Linked DNA regions of Homo sapiens: all the other regions are linked to region 1. The links come from fine-mapping of genetic effects on gene expression. A gene starts in region 1. Each other region holds a variant in brackets. All regions are shown on one strand. Distances are from middle to middle. Region 1 holds the start of EPHB6 (EPH receptor B6). Region 2 has its middle 29 kb from the start of EPHB6. Region 3 overlaps TRPV5 (transient receptor potential cation channel subfamily V member 5).

What was found.
Region 2: its variant is fine-mapped to the expression of EPHB6 in whole blood (TOPMed, PIP above 0.99).
Region 3: its variant is fine-mapped to the expression of EPHB6 in whole blood (TOPMed, PIP 0.91).

What each region holds. Positions count from the first base shown.
Region 1 is chr7:142,850,738-142,858,920 of GRCh38, forward strand. It overlaps EPHB6 (EPH receptor B6), which reads left to right and starts at 4,339. Exons shown (of 20, transcript NM_004445.6): 1 at 4,339-4,648.
Region 2 is chr7:142,821,562-142,829,744 of GRCh38, forward strand. No RefSeq gene overlaps it. Among named protein-coding and RNA genes, the nearest start is that of EPHB6, 29 kb to the right of the region's middle. The variant C/T (reference allele first, on the strand shown) is at 4,124.
Region 3 is chr7:142,922,920-142,931,102 of GRCh38, forward strand. TRPV5 (transient receptor potential cation channel subfamily V member 5) reads right to left here. Exons shown (of 15, transcript NM_019841.7): 2 at 7,430-7,527; 3 at 7,139-7,261; 4 at 6,509-6,646; 5 at 6,103-6,201; 6 at 5,772-5,947; 7 at 5,169-5,315; 8 at 2,610-2,822. Among named protein-coding and RNA genes, the nearest start is that of TRPV5, 6.7 kb to the right of the region's middle. The variant G/A (reference allele first, on the strand shown) is at 4,319.

The DNA.
Region 1 (8,183 bases):
CTATAAGACAAGAGAATATGGGAACCAGGAAATGTGTCAGCCACATCTACAAGTAGAAGGCAGATCTCATAGAAATGCAGGCCACCCTTTCAGTTTAGGAAATGCAAATGTTTTCAGAGAGCACTATCTGGAGGCGCAGCTCCAGAAATAGACTGCATTCTACTGGAAGAGCCGACCAGGGGACCATCTGCTCCACATCATAGATCATCCCATCTCCTATATGCACCTGAATGGAAAAGATACAAACCAGGAAAGGAGCAAAGAATGGTGTGGAGTGTTGATCACTTCTGCTCTGCATATGAGGACTGCCCTGCCCAAAATCTTATTAAAATCTAGAATGTTTTCAAGTCCTATTGTTTGTATGGGTAACTGCAAAGGATTTGTTATTTTTCTTTTGAGATCATGTCATGGTTATTTTAGAAAGAGGACACTCCTAGCATTTCCCTTCACTCCACTAACTTCCTGGGGACCATCTTTGAGCATTAAACCTATGTAAAGACAGTGGTCTGGGGGAAAGTACCAGCAAGTATATCCTATAAAAAGGAGATAGAGATCTCTGTTGATTGCAGGGAAAAATGTAGATTACCGTGATCATTTTATTTCATTTGTGGCAGAGGCTGCTGTTCCCCTGGCTAACACGCTTTCTTTCTTCCTCTCTTAGGTTTAACAGCTTTAATTTCATTTTGTGCAGCATGTATTTTGCAGGTTTCAAGCAGGTAGGGGTGGTCACGTGACACTGTCCTGGCCAATAATACATATGAAGTCACTGAATGGATCTTCCAGAAAGGTTCTTTGAACAGTGCTAATTCAGCTGGATGTAGCGTTTTAATCCTGTTCCCTTCTTTTTCTTGCCTGAAATTTGTAGACCTCATAGCTGGAGCTCTGGCTAAAATGTTGACAATCTGAGAACAAGTCCTCATCCTAAAGTTGGAGTCTTGTTGACTTGGGACCTTCATCGTATTTCTGTGTTATCTAATTTGTTTAAACCACTGTTGTACAACTTTGCTGTTACATATAGCTGAAGTCAACCCCTAACTGAGAGAAAAGCCATCCTCTTTCTCTTGGAGGCACTAATATCTCTGAATACCTTGTTATTATTGCATGGTTAAAGTAATATCAAAGTGTAGGACTATGATGGGTAAACTTTAATACCACCATGAAGGGTATCCATTACCCTTGGTCTACAAATCAGTTGCAATCTAGGTTTGACTTTCAAACAAACCAGTAACATAGGAGAATTTTTGAACATTCTAGAAGTTTCTGAACAGAAAACAATAAAAGCTTTAGTTGTACAAATGGGCATTTAACACTTCCATTGGTAAAGTGTTTGGAGACTAGACTCCAGCTTTTAGGAAGTGCAACTGCACCTAGAGGCCACAAAGCCTCAAGACAGTTCAGTGAAGGGCCTGAGCCCTGTGAGGTCATGCATTGGGAGCTATAACTAATGTTTTGGAATAAGAGATAGGGGACTCAGAAGACTCCTTTATGGCTTTTTACTAGAATTCTTATCAGTGAAATTATTTGTAAAGCTCTTTGTTTATGACAACATCAGCTTACATTAGCTGTTCTAAGGGGAAATAAGGAAGAAGAAAATTGCACATCCTAGGGGAGTGAGCAAAGCCCAAGAAGGAGGCAAAAACTCAGAAAAAATGAGGCAGAACCAATCTAGGAGCCTTCCTATCTCACCTGGAGTTTTCTACTCAGCAGTTCCTTTTGGTTCCAAATTTACATAATAGATTGTTGTGTGCCAGAAATGATTAATTCTGTGAGCCATAAACTTTATTAGGTCCTGCCCATTAGCAATACTCCAGGGTTTTTTTTTTGAACAAGTCAAAAAAAAAAAATATATATATATACACACATATATATATAGAAAGAAACAGGGTCTCACTCTGTCGCCCAGGCTGGAGTGCAGTAGGACAATCTTGGCTCACTGCAACCTCCGCCTCCCGGGTTCAAGCGATTCTCCCACCTTGGCCTCCTGAGTGTCTGGGACTATAGGCATGCATCACCATGCCTGGCTAATTTTTGTATTGTTTGGTAGAGATGAGGTTTCACCATGTTGGCCAGGCTGATCTCAAACTCCTGACCTCAAGTGATCCTCTCACCTCAGCCTCCCAAAGTGCTGGGATTACAGGCATAAGCCACTGTGCCCATCCACATAGAAAAAGTTTAAATATTATTTTTTATTGATTCATTCTATAACACTTCTAAGCACCTGGAGTGTCCCAGGCACCAAACAAATTATAGCAAAAAATTTACATTAAACTTTAAAAAGGAATTCATTACTTTGCTTTTTAATAGCTGCAGGTTGCAGCATACTTTAACAATGCATTCTATGCTCTCCACCTACCATTAAAACTTGGTTTGATAAGACATAGGCAATTAGGATGCAAAGCCGACTAATCACAAATTTAAACCTCTTTGCATCCTGAGTATGACACTTCCTTTGAAAACTAGATGCCTCTCAAATTTTATTAACAAGACAAATATAACTAATTACACAAGCCTTGAGCAGCAAAAACTTCATTTCATATTATAGTCACCTAATATGAGGTATATCATGAAATAGAAAAGAAGGCAGATATTTTTACTGTTATGTCAATACAGGATACGTTGCAAATTACTACAGGAATTTCTGGGTTTTATAAAGTAACAACTACGGTTTGGTTTTGTCCATATTTTTATTTTAACATAATCTAGTTATGTGTCTTTTTTTTAAGTTTTCAATATAACCATAGATGTCTAGCAATCAGGCATGTTAATGTATGAGTTACGTAATTCCACACACAATGCAAATTCTGTTTCTTTGCAGAAGTCTTTGAAAGCCTTGGAGATAACCAGAAAATGAAGGAAGCCCTCCACCACTGAGTTTCAGGGCAAAGGGAAGAAACAAGATAAAGTAGAACCGTCAGTACAAGTGGAATTATTAATGACGTCCAAATGCAGTCATTAAATACTATCAGACTTATTTATTGACTCCTGATATTAAGAGTGAACAAACCCCTGGCCAAGTGGGAACTTGCTCGGTAGCCTTTATCTTTCTATCACTCATTCAGTCAATTCATTAAAGCCTGTTTGTCTCTCCCAGGTGACTCTTACTGAGTTTCATTGTTTTGTTTATTGTGTTTGTTGGCTCATAGATCTCTTTCACAATTTTCTTCGGCTTCTGAATGCTCTTTAAGTACCAGTTTTGATCAGCCCATTTGCTTTAATAAACAGGAGAGCAAGATGGGACAGGGCGATACAGGGAGAAAAGGGGGCAAAGGGAATCGCACCGGGTGCTTGTGCTCCCTAGAAAAACCAGCAGGTGGTAGCAACACTTCGTGGCAAGGCCCCAGCCCAGCTCTGTAGGACCCAAACAATAGACCCCAAATCCCCGTCCTCGGCTAGAGAAGGGGTTAGAGGTGGGCGGAAACACTTTTCCTCGCGGCGCCCCCTCGGTTCCTCAACCCTGCCTCCAGGCGCCAGCTGAGAGCACCTTGCACCGCCCCTCCTCACTGCAGGGAGGTTCTCTCCGGAGCGCGGGCGAGGGAGGAGGCACCCAGAGGTGCAGCGACTTGCCCAAGCCATGTCAGAGCCAGGCGTACAGCAGCGCTTCCCCTTTTCAACCCGACTGCCCTGCCCCTTGGGGAGGGTAGATGGAGGGAGGTTCGACTCAGAAGCCCCAACGTTGACCAAGATCCAGACACGAAAAGAGAAAAGAGTTCCCGGCTAGCACGGCGACGCTTTCATACCGAGACGCCCCCCTCTCCCGCTGCCTCGGCTCCCCCTACCACCGCCCGTACTCTCCCAGATTTCTCAGTTTGTCTTTCCCTCCACCCCCTGCTTTTCCTTCCTTCTCTCTTGCTCAGCTCACGCCCACCTTAGTTCCAAGCTGAGTAGGAGCCCCACTGTTTTAGTTCCTAGAGTTAAAGCCGAAGAGGAGGGAGGCGCGAGGGGGTGTGTGCAGGGCTCTGCCCTGCCCTGAACTGCCACGGTCCGCCAGTTGCGCTTCGCTCCGCGGGTGTCCGACCCAAGCCGAGCCCGAGCCCGAGCCCAGGCAGGGGCTTTACAGACAGCCTCTTCCCTTCCCACTTCCTGCAGGCGCCCCACGCGTGCGATCCTCCCGGCCAAGACCCGCGGGAGGAGGCCGCCCCCTTCCCGGCGCACAGGCGGGGCCCCGGGCGCGCCCCGCGTCTCCCCCGCGCGCCGGGGCGGAGGAGCGGGCGCCGCGCACTCACCGCCTAGGCCGGGAGGGCGGGCTCGGCTCCCCGGAAGAAGGGAGTGGGAAGGCGGCCAAAGGGGCTGAAGGGGCGGGCCGGGCCGGCTTGGGAGGGGACGCGGAGGGGGCGGGCCGGGCTGCGTTCGCTCCAGCCGCGGCTCTACAGCAGCGGGCGGCGGGACCCGGGACCCAGCTTGGCGACGGCGATCTCGACGCGGGCCCCCAGGATCTCCCGGCGCCCCACCTCTGGAGCAGCCCCTGCCGCCAGCGTCAGGTCCACCCCGGAATCCCAGGGACTCTCGGCGCCGAACGGACCCGGGCCGGGTGCAACGGGGTCCCCGGACTGGAGAAGACGCGGGTGGCACCGTGCGAGCTCCAGGAGCCCCGGGTCCACTGCGAGGCCTCGGGGGGCGCAGACCTGCAGAGACTGCGGCCAACGGGAAGGTGAGCCCGCGGGGTTAGCAGGCGGCGTTGTGGGGGTCGGGGACAGTATGCTTGGGGACAGAGGAATTAAGGTTTGCAAGAGTAGTGGGGCTCCTCAGCCCCTAGGTGGCTTCCTGAGGGAGTACTGAGGATCCTTCCTCAAGGCCAGAGTGGGGTTCATGAAGGGTGAGGAAACGGTCAACCTGGCTACTCCCCTCTCACTCCACTCTGACCTGGCATCATTGACACCGCATTACCCTTGCTGTTAGGATCCCCCAGTTGCGTTCCCAGACATTCTCCTCTGGCTCTGGCTTGGGAGTCCTAATCTGGGAGGGTCCTCGCAGAGACGGAGCTCCACGCTTGGAACAGGATTGCCACCCCTCTGACTCCAGTGGCATCACTCCAATCCCCTTGGAGCTGGGAGGAGTCAGGAGGCTGACCACACACCTGTCCCCTGCTCCCCACAAGGCACTGTCCCCCCCAGCTCCATGACCACAGTTAAGCCTTGGAGGTGGAAGGAACGCTTGGTTCCTGCTGCCCAGCCATCACCCCCAACGTGCAACCAAATTCTATTGCGTGCTCCTGCCCCAGCTCCACCCTCGCTCTGCTCCCTCCATCTGGGTGCTTGGCCCTGCTTGCCCCACACCCCCACCCACCGATCTTGGCCGTCTGGCACCCTCTCTCCTCCCATCCCTGGGGGAGCTGGCATGGACCCAGCATAGCAATGTTGTAATGTCCCTGGCAGCGCCCATGGAGCGGAGCTGCTGGGTCTGTTCCCAGTTAACCCAGGCCCTCCGCCCGCCAGGGGAACTTGACTGAGGCTCTAGGAGGGGAGATGCTGGTCCTGAGCTGAGAGACCAGTGGGAGGGAGCTGTGTGGGGCTGTTAGTAGACCACAGAAGCTGCCCAAGTAAGGGGCATTGGAGCATTGAGGCTTCTGAGTGCTGCTCAGTGGGGCCACTTGGCTTTTCAGAGCAGTGGGCCTTTTTTCTCAAAGGAAGATTAGCGTGGGGGTGTCTATGTACTTACCTGGTGGCCTCAGAAGGAGGACTTGTTTGGAGTCTATTACTCCATTCAGGGTGCAAAAAGATGGTTGGCAATGACACTGAGTTACCAGAATGCTGGGGAGCAACAGGCTGGGGTGGGCTGAGCATGGGAAAGGCAGGATCCTCCTTCTGGGACGGCTGTTCTGCTATCACTCTGTCCTGAGCCTGGGCCCTAGACCCTGAGTTCCCACTCTAGGTAGAAGGAGGATGGCAGGTTCTGGAGGGTTTGGGAAGCCTCAGGTTTCCCTTTCTTTACCCACTCCTCCCCGCCCCCCACTTGGCTCCCTCTCCCAGCCCAGGTGTTTCTGCAGAAGTACCTCCTGGGGCCAAGAGCAACTCACAGCCAGACTGGGGGTAGAGCAGGGGCCGAAGGTGAGGAAGAAGGGCCCATGGAACCACTCCGGAACCAGCACTGATGTGCATCTTCTGCCACAGGAAAGCAACAGCCCCCATCTACACAGACAGCATCTGCTCCCGCCCACCTCATCTCATACACATTCCCTTACACACTCCACCAGGTAGACACACATCCTCAGGCACTGCTGACGCAGGTGCTACTCCTGGCACTCAGGGGCTTTCTTCCACAACCTTCCACTTACTCATCTCTCAGGCACATTTGCCTCCTGCCTTAACACCCTCCCTTATGCTCTTTTCCAGAGCCACGCATGTCCCCGGTCAGTGCACAGAGTGGCTCATTCTAAGTGGCTGTCTGGCTAGACCTAGACACTGCCTGCATCTTAAAAGCCTCCCCCAGCTCCACAGCCTGGGAGTGGGAGGCACATTTGTCTGAGTCACAGTGCTCTGGGGGACATTCTCAGGGGCTGGAGGCCTCCAGGGACACAGGACTGTCCTCTGCTAGGTAATCTACAAATTGGCTTCTCCAGCCAAGGAAGCAGGGACTAGAAGAGCCGGAGGACAGCCACCTCCTCACTGTCTGTCCTGGATGCCTCCATGAAGCCTGATGATGGGATCCTTCTCAAGGCAGGAGGCCAGAGCACGAAGAGATCTCCAAGGTGGAGATTAAAGGATAGAGGCTTTGGCATTAAACTGAGCAAGGATTATACTGGAATTTCCTGGGCGTTTAACAGCTGTGGAACAGGATAGGGGACAGGGCCTGTGGTACTGACCCCTCCCACACTGACCTGTGTGGCTCACAGGTGTAAGGACCAGCCCAGCAACCACACCAGACATAAAACCTCGAACCGCTTTGCCCTTGGGACTGTTCTGTCCCTGCTGGACTCTGCAGCCTGCTTTGTCTCACTAAATTGTTCCTGTCTGGGCTCGGTTTGGGGCCATGCCCTTTACTATGTGTTCCCAGTGGACAGTCCCCTGGGTTCCCCTCTGTCCCTTCATAGCCTCATCCCTTTGCTTGACATCGTCGAAGAGAAGCATGCATGATGTCAGCAGCGGGACAGTTGGAACTTCTTGGGAGACAAGCTTAAAGACTAGCCAGAGATAACAATTATTTTGGTTTTCTTGTTGGCATTACTTCACTCATTCATTCTCAGCTCCTACTGTATTTCCACCTCTACCTTCTTCTTATAGATGAACATTTCTTGATATTTTGAAACATAGAAGGAAAATGGCATGGGGAGTGAATAAAATGTAAACGTATGCTTATTTGTCTAGGTTTTACAAATATTTTTCTTTTTTGTTTAGATTTTAATTATGAGATTTTACGTTAATTATAAAAATAAGGTATGCTTACTGTAACAAGAAAAATAATTGAATTATGTGTAAGACAAAATTAATGCCCCCACCTACAATCCTTCATTTCTACCTCCCACAGTAACCCATTTTAATGGCCTAATATGTCTTCTGCCTACCTTCCTCCAAGCTTATTTGGCTTACATTATTTAATCTTTAAAAATTCACTTTGTGGATTGAGGTGCATAAACTATATTAAGTAAGCTTGATTTGCTCATGAAAATATCATATTTAGCATTTAATTGGAGCACGATTAATTTTTTAAATTCTTACCAATTTACCAATTTAATTTACTTTTAAGTCATTCTTTTTTTTTTTTTTTTTTTTTTTTTTTTTTGAGACAGCATCTTGCTCTGTCGCCGAGGCTGGAGTGCAGTGGCACGATCTCGGCTCACTGCAAGCTCTGCCTCCCGGGTTCACGCCATTCTCCTGCCTCAGCCTCCCCAGCAGCTGGGACTACAGGCACACGCCACCACGCCCAGCTAATTTTTTTTTTTTTTTTTGTATTTTTAGTAGAAACGGGGTTTCACCGTGTTAGCCAGGACGGTCTCGATCTCCTGATCTTGTGATCCGCCCACCTTGGCCTCCCAAAGTGAAATATTTCATTTTTATAGCAACATAACTCGTAAGCTATGCTTTGTAACCTATGATTCTACAAATCTTTACTTTTTGCCAGTTTCTGAAAACAAAACACAACCTTGATACCTAAGAAACAGTCTTATTTTTGTAAACCAAAGAGATGTAGCAGGCTTGTGGATCTATTGTCTCTACTGTATCAAAAAGATATTAAGTGATATATCTATA
Region 2 (8,183 bases), 29 kb before region 1:
CAGCTGAGAGGAGAATAAGTCAAGTAGAGTTCACAGGGCTGAGGATAGCAGAGGAGAGAAGCGGGCAAAGAGAGAATTTGTGAGGTCATCAGAGAGCCCACCCTCAGTATTCAGTAGGGTATTAACAAGAGCATGAGTGTGAAAAAACCACCTGAGATTGGGAAAATAACCACACAAAGGATTAAAGAAAACAGTAACTGAATTTCATGTAGGGCCGGGAATAGTGTATAGTTTCACCAGCCAAACTCAAAAACATTAAAATTCATGGGGCATTGGGACAAGAGCTCAGAAGTGTTTGGGCTCAGAAGTGGAGGATAATGATCTCTAAACTAAATGCTGCTCTGCTGTCATCTAACAAATGATTAAAGCCAGGTACAAAAGCATCAGATTATTTCAAGAAATGTAACTGTATTCTAAAACAGGGCTCAAAAATATTTATAGAAAAATAAAAAGTCCAACACAAAATTAAAACTCAATGTATGGAATAAAATAAAAAAATTACCAAGCATACAAAAATAGCAGAAAAATGCAACGTATAATGAAAGGAAAACTGGCACAGATGTTAGAATTAGTAAAAAAATAATAATAATTTAATTTAAAAATAAAATAGTTAAGCTAGAGATGTTAAGCAGACATAGAAGATATTTTTAAAAGCTGCAAAGCCAACTTCTGGAGATGAAAATGACAATATCTGAGATGAAAAATACACTGGATGAGATTAATGATAGATTAGACAATGTAGAAGAAAATACTAGTAACCTAGGAAGATATAGCAACAAAGGCAAACCAAAAATGGAGGATAGAGGAAATAAAATAATTTTTGAAAGGAAACAGACAATTAATTGTTACAGGACAACTTAAAGTGAACTAACATAACTGGGGTTTTAAAAGAAGAGAAGAAAGATGGGAAGAAAGAAAAAACTATTGGAAGAAATCATGACTGAAAGTTTCTAAAGTCAATAAAACTCGAACCTCACATATCCAAGAAGCCTGACAAAACTCAAGCATACATACACAAAATACACCAAAGAATATCATAATCAGATTTCTGAAAATTAGTGTTAAAGAGAAAATCTTAAAAGCAGCCACAGGATAAAAACATGTTTTGTACAGTAGAACAAGATAAAGATGACAGAAGATTTCTTGGTGAAAACAAAGCAAGTGAGAACACAGTAAAGCAACATCTTTAAAATACTGAAAGAAAAATACTGTCTTTTTGATAATGACCAGCCTAACAAATGTGAGGTAATATTTTATTGTGGTTTTGATTTTCATTTCCCTAATGATTAATGATGTTGAATACCTTTTCATATCCCTTTTGGCCATTTGAGTGTCTACTTTAGAAAAATGTTGAATAATCAAAAAAGATGATTAGTGATGTTCAGCACCTTTTCATATACCTGATTATCTTCTTTGGAAAAGTGAAAAAATGAAAACATATATTCTTTGAAAACAGGCGGTTTGCCCATTTTTTTAAATGGATATTAACCCTTTATCAGACATATGGTTTACAAAATTTTCTCCCATTTCATGGTTTGCTTTTTCATTTTGTTGATTGTTTCTTTTGTCATGCAGAAGCTTTTTTAGTTTGATGTATTACCATTTGTTTATTTTTACTTTTGTTATCTGTTCTTTTGTTGTTACATCAAAAAAATTGCCAAGACCAATGTCATGAAGCTTTTTTTTATGTTTTCTTATAAAATTTTTGCAGTTTCAGATCTTACATTTAAATATTTAATCCATTTAAAGTTGATTTTCCGTATATAGTGTAACATAAGGGTTCAGTTTTATTTTATTTTATTTTTTTGGATACAGATATTCAATTTCCCAGCACCATTTATCGAAGAGGCTACCCTTTTCCCGTTGCATACTCTTGGTGCTTTTGTCAAAGATTAGTTGACCATATATGTGTGGGTTTATTTCTGGGCTTTCTGTTCGGTTCCTTTATTCTATATGTCTGTTTTTAAGCCAATACCATACTGTTTTGATTACTATAGATTTGTAATATAACTTGAGACTGGAAAATGTGATGCCTTCAGCTTTCTTCTTTCTTCTTAATATTGCTTTAGCTATCTAAAGCAATATTTAATCTGTGAAAATGCCACTGGAAATTTCATAGAGATTGCATTCAATCTGTAGATGACTTTGGGTAGTGTGGACATTTTCACAATATTGACCCTTCTGATCTATGAAGGTAGGATAGATTTCCATGTATTTGTATCTTCTTCAATTTCTTTCATCATTGTTTTACGGTTTTTAGTGTACAGATCTTTCACCTCCTTGGTTAAATTTATTTCAAGGTGTTTTATTCCTTTTGATGTTTGTAAATAGGATCATTTTCTAAATTTCTCTTTTACATAGTTCATTGTTAGTGTACATAAATGGAATTGATTTTTGTATGTTGATTTTGTATTCTGCAAATTTAATAAATTTGTTTATTAGTTCTAATACTTTTTTACTAGAGTCTTTAGGGTTTTATATAATTTAAGATCGTATCATCTGCAAACAGAGATGGTTTTACTTTAATAGTAATTTAGACACCTTTTATTTCTTTTTCTTTAATAATTGCTCTAACTAGGAATTCCAGTACTATGTAGAATAAAGGTAACAAGATGGCATATTTGTCTTGATCTTGATCTTAGAGAAAAGGCTTTCAACTTTTTACTGTTGAAAATGATGTTAGCTATGGGCTTGTAATATATTACCTTTATTGTGTTAAAGTATATTTCTTTTATACCTAATTTGTTGAGAGTTTTTGTCATGAAGGGATGTTGAAATTATCAGATGCTTTTTCTGCATCCGTTGAGATGATTATATGGCTTTTGTTCTTCACTCTGTTAATATGGTGTATCGTTTATTGATTTGTATATGTTGAGCCATGCTTGCATCCCAGGGATAAATCCCACTTGATTATAATGTATGATCATTTTAATGTGATGTCAAATTCAGTTTGCTGATATTTTGTTGAGAATTTTAACAACTATATTCATCAGAAATATTGTCCTGTAATTCTCTTTTCTTGTAGTATCCCTGTCTGGTTTTGGTATCAGGTAATGCTGGCTTCATAAAATGAGTTTAAAAGGACTCCCTCTTCTCCAATTTTCTGGAAACATTTGAGAACAATTAGCATAAGTTCTTCTTTAAATGTTTGATAGAATCTGGCAGTGAAGCCATCAGGTCCTTGGCTATTATTTGATGGGAAAAATTTTATTACTAATTTAATCTCCTCAATCATTGATCTGTTCAGATTTTTTTCTTCATGATTCAGTCTTAGTAGGTTGTATGTGTCTAGGAATTTATACATTTCTTCTAGGTTCTCCAATTTGTTGGTGTATAATTCTTCATAGTAGTCTCACAATTCTTTGTATTTCTGTGGTATCAGTTGTAATATCTTCTCTTTCATTTTGGATTTTAATAAAAAAAGAATCAAGTAGTACAAGTTACATTATCTCTCTCCAGTGGGATTATATTAGAAATTAATAGTAGAAAAATCTGGAAAATCTCCAAATACTTGGAAACTAAATACATGTATATAAACTACCTATGGGTCAAAGAATAAATCAAAGGAGGAATTATAGAGTATTTTGAAGTAAATAAGGATAAAAACGCAATATATCAAAAATTTTTGAAATGCAGCTAATTCAGTACACAGAGGAGAACTCATAGCACTAAAATATTTACATTAGTGTACAGTAAAGGATTAACCTTGCCCAAAGAAAGTTTTGGTCCTCCCTTTTCCCTAGGCTTTGGATCATAACTTTTAAACCCTTGGAATGTCCTGCCTGATTAAAATAACTTTGTTTATCTGGGAGGGTTTGGGCCATACCAGACAGCCTATGCTAACAATGATTTATGGTGGGGACTTTAGGCTACACAGTGTATTAGTGTGTCCAAACCCCTGTAAAAAGCTCTGGACAAACCTCCAATAAAAACTCTGGACACAAAGCTCAGGTGAATGACTCCAGTTTTAAAAATTCGAAATTTGTGTGAAACCACCAATAACTAAAGTAATATTGAGAAAAAAGAAAGTCAATACTTTATGCATACTGTGACACATCATTGCTGAGAGAAATAAGTGCTGTTTGCACATCTCTGCTGGGGACAACTGGAAGCTGCATGCCTA[C/T]GCTCTCTTGAACCCTGCTCTATGAGCCTCTTCCCTTCACTGTCTTTAATCTGTATTTCCACTCTAATAAACTGTGAGTATTGTGGCCTTCTTGAATTCTTTGAGTTCTTCCAGTGAATCACTAAACAGGAGTGATTTAGTGGAGTCCTCTTGAATTTGCCACTAGAAAATGAAAGTTCTCAAATCAATGACCTCAGATTCCACCTTATAAACTAGAAAAAGAAGAGCAAATTAAGCCTAAAATTAAGCTGAAGAAAGAAGGTGATAAATATCACAGGAGAAATTAGTGAAATGGAGAACACAAAACCAGTAAAGAAAAACCAAAGTAACCAAAAGTTTGTTATTTGAGAAGATCAATAAAATCGATAGGGTGCTAGCAGACTAATCAGGAAAAAAGAGAGAAAATATAAATTACTCATATTAGGAATGAGAGAGAAGGTACTGCTACAAAATCTACAGGTATTAAAAGAATGTTAAAGGAATATTATAAACAACTTTATGTCAAAAAATTTTGAGCAGAATAGAGAATCCAAAAGTAGATCCACACATATTTGGACAACTGACTTTCAACAAAGCTGAAAAGGCAGTTCACTGGGGAAAGAATAGTTTTTCAGTAAGTGGTTCTGGAGCAATTAGCTAACCATATGCAAAATAACAATAATAAACCTCAACCTTGCCTTATACCAGCAACACATACTCACTCAAAATGGATTATACATTTAAACAGATTTGCTAAAACTATAAAGGTTCTAGAAGAAGACATGAGAGAAAATCTCAGTAATGTTGGGCTTATTAGTGATTCTTAAATAAAACACAAAAAGCATGAAGCATAAAAGAAAAAAGCTGAATTTCATCAACATTTAAAACTAGATGGTGAAAAGATAACACTAAAGGAATGAAATGTTTGCTGGGTGCAGTGGCTCACGCCTGTAATCCCAGCACTTTGGGAGGCCAAGGCGGGAGGATCACTGGAGGCAGGGAATACAAGACCAGCCTGTCCAACATGGAGAGACCCCATCTCTAGTAAAAATACAAAATTGGCCGAGCGTGGTGGCACATGCCTGTGGTCCCAGCTGCTCGGGAGGCTGAGGCAGGAGAATTGCTTGAACCCAGGTGATGGAGGTTGTGGTGAGCCGAGACTGTGCCATTACACTCCAGCCTGGGTGACAGACAGAGACTCTGTCTAAAAAAAAAAAAAAGAAAGAAAGAAAGGCACAGGTCCACACAAAGACACAAATTTTCATAACAATTTTATTTGTAATAGTCAAAATTTGGAAAAAATCCAATTGCCTATTAATGGGCGAACTAATGCTGAAATTGTCATGTATCCACACAAAGGAAAATTAGCAATAAAAAGAATGAACTATTTAAATTTAAAACAACATAGATAAATCTCAAAATAATATGATGAATAAAAGTAAAGAAACAAAAAAGAGTACATAGTTTATAATTGCATTATATTAAATTCTAGAAAACACAAAGAAATCTATAGTAATAGAAGAAGCACTCTATCAGTGTTTGTCTGGGAACAGCATGGAGAGAAGGATGGAATTATAAAAAGCCACAAGGCTATTCACAATAGCAAAGACATGGAATCAAACCAGGTGCCCATCAATGGTAGATTGGATCAAGAAAATGTGGTACATATACACCATGGAATGGTACGCAGCCATAAAAAAAGAATGAAATTATGTTCTTTGCAGCAAAATGGATGCAGTTGGAGGCCATAATCCTAAGCAAATTAATCCAGGAACGGAAAACCAAATATCGCATGTTATCACTTAAAAGTGGGAACTAAACATTGAGCATACATGGATATAAACAATGGAACAATAGACATTGTGAACTACCAGAAGGGGGAGAGAGACAAGGGGAAGTGTTTTGAAAAACTACCTATCAGGCACTATCTTCTGTACCTGGGTGACAAGATCTGTACTTCAAACCTCAGTACAAACCTCAGTATTAGGCAATATTCCCATGTAACAAATCTGCACATGTTCTCCCTGTATCTAAAATAAAAGTTGAAATTTAAATAAATAAATAAATAGCGGGCCACAGCAAAACTTTTGGAGGTGATGTGTAAGTTCATTACATTAAGTTTTATGATGGTTTCCCAGGTGTTTGCGTATGTCAAAGCTTACCAAATTGTACATTTTAAAGATGTCTATTGTTTGTCAAGTGCATTTTAATAAAGCTGTAAAAGAAAGAATTATTTTTGATACAGTGTTAGGACAACAGAAAACCACTGAGAAAATTTAAGCAAGAGAATGTCAATAATTAATGCCACATTTTAACTAATTAACTGCAATTAATCACAATCAATCAGTAAGAAAAGGTTTTGTGCTGAAGATTTTCCAGAGAGATAAGTAAGCAAGTATATCATGCATGCAGTGGAGCAGGGCAGAGCCTCATAAAATCCCTCTTAAACGTGTCTGTTCTTTTGCCAAATTTCCATTCTGGTTGCCAGCTACCTTTTTCCTCCTCTTTCTTTCCACAGCCACTGCCATCCTCATTATAGCCCCAGACAATTCAGCTCTTGAAAGTGTATCCAGCAAAACAAAAGTGTAACAGCAGCTCAGCACCACTTGGAAAGCAGTTGCATAGCCACCTCTTTCTCTACAAGCTCAGTCCTTCCTGAGGTTGCCCTCTCACCTATTCCCCTACATCAAAAGTGACTCATCAAAGTATTCAGTAGACAAAATTAGTCTCTATCCAGGGAGAATTCACTACTTGGAAAGTAAGATGTTCTGTTTCTCATTACATACAAAAAAAAAAAAAGTTGATAAAATCACAGAATTCAGTTTGAGAGAGAGGAAGATACTAAATGTCATTTGTCATTCTGACCTTGAAGTCACATTGAGTCCAATTCAATCAGAAAAGTGCAAGTGAAAATTTGGATTTTTAATGAGACACCAGGACTAGAAATACTGACTTCAGGGGTCATCCGCAGAGAGAAAATAGTTGAAATGTTTGGAATGGATGAGATCTCCAAAGCAACAAGTGAAGAAAAAGGAACAAAGGTCCAAAAATAAAAACTGTTGAACATCCACACTTATAGGTAAAAGGAGGGGAAAAGTAAGCTTAAGAAATTAAGAAAGTAGTTCTAGAGGGAAGACAAGAAATGGGATGGTATCTTGGAAGTTCAGAGGAGACTGTGGGTACAAAGAGGTGGCAGCAGGATTTAAAAGAACTTTAAAAATTCAGTAAAATTAGGACTGAATGACTTCACCGATGTTGTTGACTAGAGGAGGAGAAAGTAGCAGATTCAGAGCACTCATTTGACAAGTTTAGGGGCAGAGCGAGTAAGGGAGAGGTTAAAGGGAATGGTAGAGTTGAATACAGTCTTTTATTCCAACGTATTTATAGTCTGATTATATAGAAAGCCAAGAGGAAGAACTACATAAAGACAGGAAAATTGAAGATGCTAAAGAAAGAAGATATTTGAGAAACAAAGAGGCATGTGGATTAATTATTGGACATCAAGAAGGGGGAACTTTTTTCCTCTGAAATAGGAAAAGAAGAGAAAATGCGTAAAAGATAGACCTGCACTGAGGAAGGCCAACATACATACAGAAAGAGGCTAGATCTAATGATCGGTTGAATGTAATGTTTTTAAAAACCCACCATTTCACCCATCAGATTGGCATAATTAAAAGAATCAATAGTATCTGATGTTGGCAAGCATGTAGGGAAATAACATGCTCTCATGCACAGCTGGAAAGTAAACTGCAACAGTCTTTATGGAGGGTAATTTGGCAGTGTTTATTGAAACTCCACATGGCCGGGCGCAGGGGCTCACGCCTGTAATCCCAGCATTTTAGGAGGCCAAGGCGGGTGGATCACAAGGTCAAGAGATCGAGACGATCCTGGCCAACATGGTGAAACCCCGTCTCTATTAAAAAAAAAACACAAACATTAGCTGGGCATTGTGGCACGTGCCTGTCGTCCCAGCTACTCGGGAGGCTGAGGCAGGAGAATTGCTTGAACCCGTGAGGTGGAGGTTGCAGTGAGACGAGATCATGCCACTGCACTCCAGCCCGGCGACAGTGCAAGACTCCGT
Region 3 (8,183 bases), 72 kb after region 1:
GATAGAAATAAACTAACTCCAGCTTTACAAACATCAGCTTTTGTGTAGTTTTTTGCTACCTTATACAGAGGAATTTGTTTTCTCTCATCTGTTCTGAGATGGTGCTGTTGCACTACTCTTATAAAATGCCAGATATTAAACTAGAAAGGATCTTAGGGGTGATGGAGCCCAGTGATTTCCACAGATCCCAAGAGATCTGCAGAGGAAGTCCTGAAGTGACTGAGATCCCTGTGATCCCAGAGTTATTAATATAATTGGACAGTAAAGTATTCATTCATCTAAGAAAAAGCTCCACCAGCTAACTAATATGTCAACAATTGCATGAGTCAAATCAAGACACTGTATTTGTGCGTTTTCATTTTTTCTAAGACTTTCAAGTAAGAAAACAGTAGGAAAAAAAAGGAATTTCCTATTATTTAAAAAATCTGGTGCACTGTGAAAACAGAATCTTTCAAATCATGATGATAAGTTTAGGAGCCCCTGATCTAATCCAAATGGGCTTACTACTGAATAAGAAGAACATAGTCATCCCATAAATCAGGGCCAGGGCTCAAAGCATAGGGACTTTTCATTAGCGTTCTTTGTTATCTAACCCCTTCCAGCAGCATTCTCAATCCTCTTACCCACCCACTTCTCCACCAAGAAAAGAATATCTGAAAGTCCAAAGTCTTCTCTTTGAGCTGAAGTGGCTTTCACTGAAGCAGAAGGCAGAAAGGGTAAAAATGCCAAGGAACAAGAAGGAAGGCAGAAGAGAGAAAGAAAGAAGGATGGGTCAGGTGTTCAGCTATAATTATGCTTCTGAGTCCTGAAGCAAAGGAGGCGGTCTTTTACATACAGACTATCTGGATCAAAGAAATGTGATTGTACATAACTAGCCCTGTCCCAAAGAGAAAGAGACACACAGGAAGGAGAGTTTTGGTTATCAGTGGCTCAGCATTGCCCACCTTTTAACCCAGAGTCCTGTCTACCTTCAAAATGCAGAAAATCTCCAAGTAAATTTGAGACAAAGGAAGGTTGGAGAAGACATATCTGAGGAAATAGGGCCAGGAGCATTGGAAAAGTCCAGTCATCCCCACCTTGTTTGTGTTTTCTCAATTTCTAATCACTCCTCCCTCCACTTGCCATCTCCTAACTGTCCTTATTTTCCTCATGTCTCCATGCCAGGGACAACTTTTGCGGCCAGACTGAGATGCATGCAGCACAACTGCTTCCAGTGTCTCTAACACATTCAGGCTTGTCCTCCCCAGGCAGCAAGACCTACTTGGTGAGAGGCAGTGTATCTGGACACATGACACACTGTATATATATACATATATATATATATACATATACATGTATATATATACATATATATATATATACATATACATGTATATATATACATATATATATACACACATATACATGTATATATATACATATATATATATATAGACATATACATGTATATATATACATATATATATATATATACATATACATGTATATATATAAAGGCAATTCTAAAAACAGGAGAGATGGAGTGTCTCTACCTAGCATAGGGTTCATTTGGGCTCTTTGCCCTGTTCTTTCTCTGTGCATATCGCTGTCTTTGGTCTAAACAAATTCAGGATTTTTGCTTCTTGGCTATAGAAAGTTTATATTCTCTTTCCGACTGAAACTACCCTGCTTCCTAGTCCAGGCTGAGCTATACCTATGGCTGCTCTCTCCTGCATTGAGATAAATCTCCAATCACTCAGTTCTCACTTGCTTTGCAAAATTCTTTTTCCTGGTCTTTTGCTTTCTGCTACATACCTACATCACCTTCTGTGTATTTTCAGCTCACCAGGACAAAAATTTTAGTAATCCACAAAGAGTCAACCCCTCAAATATAGCTACAGTTGTTAAATATATATATTCAGAAGTGCTCATTAGAGTCTACCCTTTCTGTTGCACAAAAAGGAGGTTTACTTTCTTCAACAGCAGATTTCTATATTTACTGTGTACCTCGAATCAGTCCTCTTCCTAACCCTAGTTTTCCCTTGGCCACCACAACACAGAATGGCAGGCCCACAACACTAAATGGAGCCTCAGAGAGTATTTACTTCAGCCTGATACCCAATCCAGACATCCTTCTGCAGAGTGTCTGACAGGCAGTCAGACAGCTGACACATTATTCCCATGGGCCCATATAGACAGCACACAGAAGAGGGTGCAGGCCAGCAGGGCTGTCTGTGTTGCCCAAATACAACAAAAATGGACTCAGAAATGGACTTGGAGCACAATTTTCCTCCTTTTGAGCAATAGAGTTTACCTTGAACATCCCACTAAAAAACCCTGATACTTTTTGTAAATTACCAAAAAATTTCACAAAAGCACAGGCTTACTCATGCCAAGCACTCTTTCAAAGTTTGTGTGAGAAAATCCACAGCTCCCTGGACAAATGCTCTTGTGCTCATTAAACCCCATCTGTGGCCTCCTGGTCTCATGTCTAATTTCTACCTGGGTGTTTAGGAGCCTACACCTGCTGGAACCCAGAGCGTGGCATCGTCCCTGAGTAGCATGGCTTCGTTTCCAGCACCATCACCCCTTGATGCAATTCTCTCTCATCCCCTTCTGAGGAGAATCACCTGTAGTAGTTTTTGCTGGAGGATGGTGATGTCTCGAGAATGAGTGCGGTTGCCACCACGAAACTTAAGGGGGCGGTAGACGCAGCACGTAGTAAAGCAGATCATGTAGAGCAGGTACAAGGCAGCCAGGATGCAGAAGTACGGCCGGCCATACTTGTTCCACTTGAAGCTCACCAGCTCCTTCACTGGGGTCTGTTCCAGAATTTGGCGAGCCTGGCATGGAAGTAGAGTGAAACTTGGGGTGACCAACACAGAAGGATGTTGTTTATCCCACTGGGGGCCAGAAGAGGCAGGGCAGCAACCATCACTCACTCAGCTCATCAGTCACTTATTTGACGGACAAATAGTATATTTCCTGCATATGGCTGGGCCTTGTGCTAGTGATACAGGTAAATGACTATAGCAGTAAACACAAGGCACCATAGCACCAAAGAGGATTTAAAGGATGAGTAGTAGTTAGATGAGTAAAGGGAGAGTTAGGAAAGATCATACCATAAGCTAACAGCAGTTGCCAGGTCAGGAAGGTCTGAGAAGCCATTGCCCATTTGCAGTTGAGATGTGGTTGGGGAGAGGGGAGAATCTATTGGGAGTGGTAGTCAGAAATGATAATGACTGAGGAAGAACAGGGCCAGGTCATCATGCATCATAAATGCCAAGGTAGGAAGTTTGCATTTTTTGTTTTTTCTAAATATAACAGAAAGCAACTGGGGAGTTCAAGCAGGGAAGTGGTCAGATTTGCTCTAGAAGTATTATTGGGCTGGAAAGAAGCAATGGAGGTTACAGGCAGTAGGATGTGGCAGGGTGGGATGGTGCTCTGAAATAAGCAGCCAGTGAGACGTTAAAGATACACAGGAGAGGGGATGATGGACGGGAGGAGGCATCTGAGAAATTAGAAAGAGACAGATTCAAAGCACAGTAGAGTGATTAGCCATTAACAGCATGAATATCTTTTCTACTGAAGCTGGAGGGGAGGAGAGAGACAGTGGGCAGTTTCCAGACATGCTCGGCAGTGTAGGGCAGGAAGCTGAAGGATCCCCAGCCAGAAAGCCTCTATTTTTGTCCTAAATCAGGAGTCTAGGTCTTCTGAACTGCAGCTGAAGGTAGTGAAGGATGTGAAAGGGGGCTAGAAAGGAAGATTTATGGAGGAAAAAAGCAACTGACCCAAGACACTTATGAAACCTGCTGGAGAATATTGAGAATAGCTTAAATCAAAGACCAAGGATATGTGGTGGCGAAATCCACACAGTGGGATTGTGCTTTTAATACCTAAGAAATCCTGCTCAAAGTGTATCTGTTTCCAGGGATATTCTCTGAGGAAGATCTCACAAACTAGCCACTCAACTTTTCTTCTATTCGTTAGTATTAATAATCATTCATGTTTTCTGGATCTATAAGGATTCCTGGGAAATTGTCACTGTGGCAGATACAAAACAGAAACTACATCTTGGCACTCTCATGGAACGTTCTGAAACCTGGAAGTCTTTTCTCCTCTCTACTGCAGTCTTCAACAAATTTTCGTTTCCCTCACATCACTCAACCCAGCATTGTTGAATGGTCTATACGTTGCTCCCTCTCTAAAAAGCTCTTTTTTTTCTCTCATCTTCCTGTGACTCCCAATTCTTCCTTGAAGATCCAGCCCCAGCATTTCCTCTGTGACATCTTCTCTGGTCTATCCAAGCCAAGTTAACTCTACCTCAATGTGGCTGTCT[G/A]CATGCATGGTACACACAACTATTACGGCATATGTCATGCTCTGTTGCAATTATTCAGGACAGGGACTGAGAATTGAGGAAGTTGATGAACAGGAACTGTGTTGTATTTATTTCTGTACTGTTTGTTTCTTGTGCAGTGCCTGACATACAGCGGGTGTTCAATATGCTTGTATTAGTCCATTCTCATATTACTATAAAGAACTACCTGGCACAGGGTAATTTATAAATAAAAAGGTTTAATTGGCTCATGGTTCTGCAGGCTGTACAGGTTCTGGAGAGGCCTGAGGAAACGTACAATCATGGCAAAAGGCCAAGAAGAAAGCAGGCACATCCTACATGGCCGGAGCAGGAGGAAGAGAGAGCAGGAGGAAGAGAGAGCAGGGGGAGGTGCCACACACTTTTAAACAACCGGATCTTGTGAAAACTCACTATCACGAGAACATCAAGAGGGAAGTCTGTCCCCATGATCCAATCACCTCCCACCAGGCCCCTTCTCCAACACTGTGGATTACAATTTGACATGAAATTTTTGCATTTGGACACAAATGCAAACCATATCAATGCTGAACCAATGAATGAATATGAGGAAACAGCTCTTATTTGGAGTTTCTCATCTGAAATGATAGAAGGCGAAAGGTAGGCAGAAGGGACTGGAGCTAAGCAGAGAGACAGGGGATTCAGGAGAGGAGTGTGCATTGGACTTTCCCCCATGTCCCAGGAGACTATTCTCATCTCCACCTATTATAAGGCTGGGAAGTGTCTCAGGCCCAGGATCTTAGTAAGTGGACAGACTCTGCACAAACACTAAATTCCCTCACATGACAGGCCTGATCCTCCTTGGCATCCATACCTCTCGTTTATCAGAGGAGACCACAAGCTCCAGGAAGGACAGCTCCTCTCCCCAGGAGTCGATCTCCGTGAGGTCGTAGAGAATGGAGGTCAGGGGTCCATACGTCCACTGGATGTGCCTCCGCTTCTGCATCAGGTGCTGGAACATCTGAGAGACCACCAGGATGAGTCAGGGGGCCAACGTGTGAGAAGGTGGTCGAGGAGAACAACTCCATTGGATGGAGCCAGTTGCCCACCCCTTGAGACAGACAGACAGTGGGAACCAGCAAACCTCTGCATCTACAAGCTTTCCCTTTTTTGTCATCTTTCCTGCTCCAAAACCCCAGAAAGTGCAGAAAGAAGAAAATAGGCAAAGGAAGCTAGAGCTTTGGGTTATCACAGCACATGCATTAAGGTAAGGTTCTCAAATCCTCTTGAGTCAAGGACCATGAAGCTGAAGATTTCAGTGATGGAATAGGAAGCAAGGGACCACCATCCCTTTGGGGAGTTTGGGGAAAAGGGATTTTAGAGAAAGGTGGGCCCTTCACCTCTATTTCTCCCAGGGCCAGCAGGATAGGTTGAGGGTCATTAGAAAGACACCTCAGGGATGGGGAGCGTCTCTTACCACAGTGTTACCCTCCACTCCAGCCAGCTTGAAGGGGGTGAGACCCTGGTGATTGGGCACAAGGTCCAGGGGCTGCAGGTGGTCCCCATGTCCATCATAGGACAGCAGCAGGTTGTACATCTGGCAGGCAAAGGTTTTGTTGGGCTGGAGGATGAGGATGTGTAATACTGTGTTTCCTGGGGAGGACGCAGGGTATCATGTGGCCACTGGCCTAAAGTCCCTGATGTCCCCATCCCCACTCTGGGGTCTTCCTAAAGGTCCCAGCTCCACTCCTTACCCTGTCCCTCGCTCCCCACAGCATCCCAGCTCCCCTCCCCATCCCAGCTCTTACCCAGGGAGTCCTGGGCCCTGATGTCAGCTCCATGCTCAATGAGCAGCCGCACGATCTCCTCGCTGTTCACACAGGCAGCAAAGGACAAAGGGTGCTCCCCTGTGGACACAGAGAGATCCATGGCAGGAGAACGCAGGATGGCAGGATGGGGTGGGCAGTCTCCCCCAAATAAGGGCCTCCTCCTCATCCCCCATATCTCAGTTCTAGGCTGAGGGACACTCGTCCAGCAGAACCAGAGGAAGGAACCATCAGGGGAATGGGCCTCTGGCTTAATTAAGCCCTAGAAGGGCTGCCCCTCTCAACTGCCCAACAGATGGAGCTGAAGGCAGGACCCTCATGCCCTGGCCTCCCTCTGCCTTGCCCGCCTCTCCAGCCAACCATCCTTCAAGCCCAACCCTGCTCTCACCAAAGTAGATGAGGTTGCGGGGACTATGGCGGAAGGCAGTGCCTGTGGCTCTGGCAGAGACACTGGCCCTGCGGGTGAGCAGGGCACGCACCAGGTTCACATTCTGGTTCACAACAGCGATGTGCAGTGCAGTCTGACCTGGCCCAGAGACAGCCATCATCAGGGTCTCCCTCTGTCCCCAGTTCTCTCAGGGACACAGCATCCCCCACCATCCCTCTCAGGAGGTTCCTGATAGATCTTTGCTAGACTTCTGCCCTGGGCTTGGCAGGGTGGCCTGGGACTAAGAGCAATTCATCCCTCAGGCTGCCCTGCTCATTGACCTACCCTTCAGTTATTGGGAGCCAGCAGGGGATTGCTATGAATATAATCATTCTCATGTTGCTATGAGAGAAAGAAATTGAGATAGGTCCTACAGGGACTATGGGAGGTTTGAAAGGAAATGCTGAAGGAAGCCACAGATTGGTAAAAGCCAAGACCAGGACCTTTGCATTTCTCCCAACTCAACGGAGCCCATCCTCCTGACCCTCCATCACCCCACCCCAACCCATCCTTCAGAGGCCAATTTTAAGAGACAACAGCACACCCTCCATCTCAAAGTTTCCACCTTGAATTACCATGTAGGCTCCTTACCTGCAAAAGCCTCACATGTGGTGGGCTCAAAGACCAGCTCTGGGGCAGCCTCCATCAGCACCAAGGCCGCCTCCAAGTTGTCATAGAGGGCTGCTATGTGCAGCGCCGTCTCCCCCAGGGCTCCTGGATTGGAGTAAGACAGAGATGTTAGACACTTTTCAGATTCCCTTGAGGAAGGGGCCTCAGGCTCCAGAGACACCCTCCAAGGCCCTATTTCACAAACTCGAAGTCTTGGGGAGGAGGAGTAGGTTCTTCTGCCCCCACCTCCATCCCATTAAATCCAGATCCCACCTCTTTGTCGAACGTCACAGGTGCAGTCCAGTAGAAGTTGCCTAAGAACAGACAGGTCATTTTCCTTGGATGCTCGAAGCAGTGGAGACTCTAGAATCCTGGGGAAAGGTGAACGTGAGTTTGGAAGAGACAGTCATAGCAGAATGAGGCCAAGAGCAAAGGGGATCTAAGACATTCTTTAAGACCAACGTGACTCACACAGCGTGCAGTGACAAATTGGAAAGAAGTGCCTACTGGACTCGAATGACCGAGGGTGGACTTGGGCAAGGGTCAGCCCCAGGGCCTTCCTTGCAATTCACATCATGGTGATTCTCCTGTGAGGATGGCCCTTGAAGCTCTGCTGGAGGGGAAGAGTTAATAGGAAGAGAACCTGTAGTCTGGAAAGAGTGGTCTGAGAGTCTCTAAGAAGAGGACCCTAGGCTTGGCTGAATTCATCTAACCTGAGTAACTGTCTCAGATCCTGGATAGTTGGAGAGCGGGACAGAGGGCACTTCCATCTGCGGTCCCCCTGCTCCTGGGCCTGCTGAATCTACTGTCTTTAACCAAGGGGAGTTTGGGAGACCAAAACACAGAGGGAGGAGGAATGGATCGACTGCTAGATCTTTCCTAGGCATTTTGAAATTTGTGAAATTTGTGAGGCACTAAAGTTCTGACTACTCCCTCAGGCTATTTTTTTTTTTTTTTTTTTTTTTGAGACAGAGTCTTGCTCTGTTGCCTAGGCTGGAGTGCAGTGGTACAATCTCAGCTTACCGCA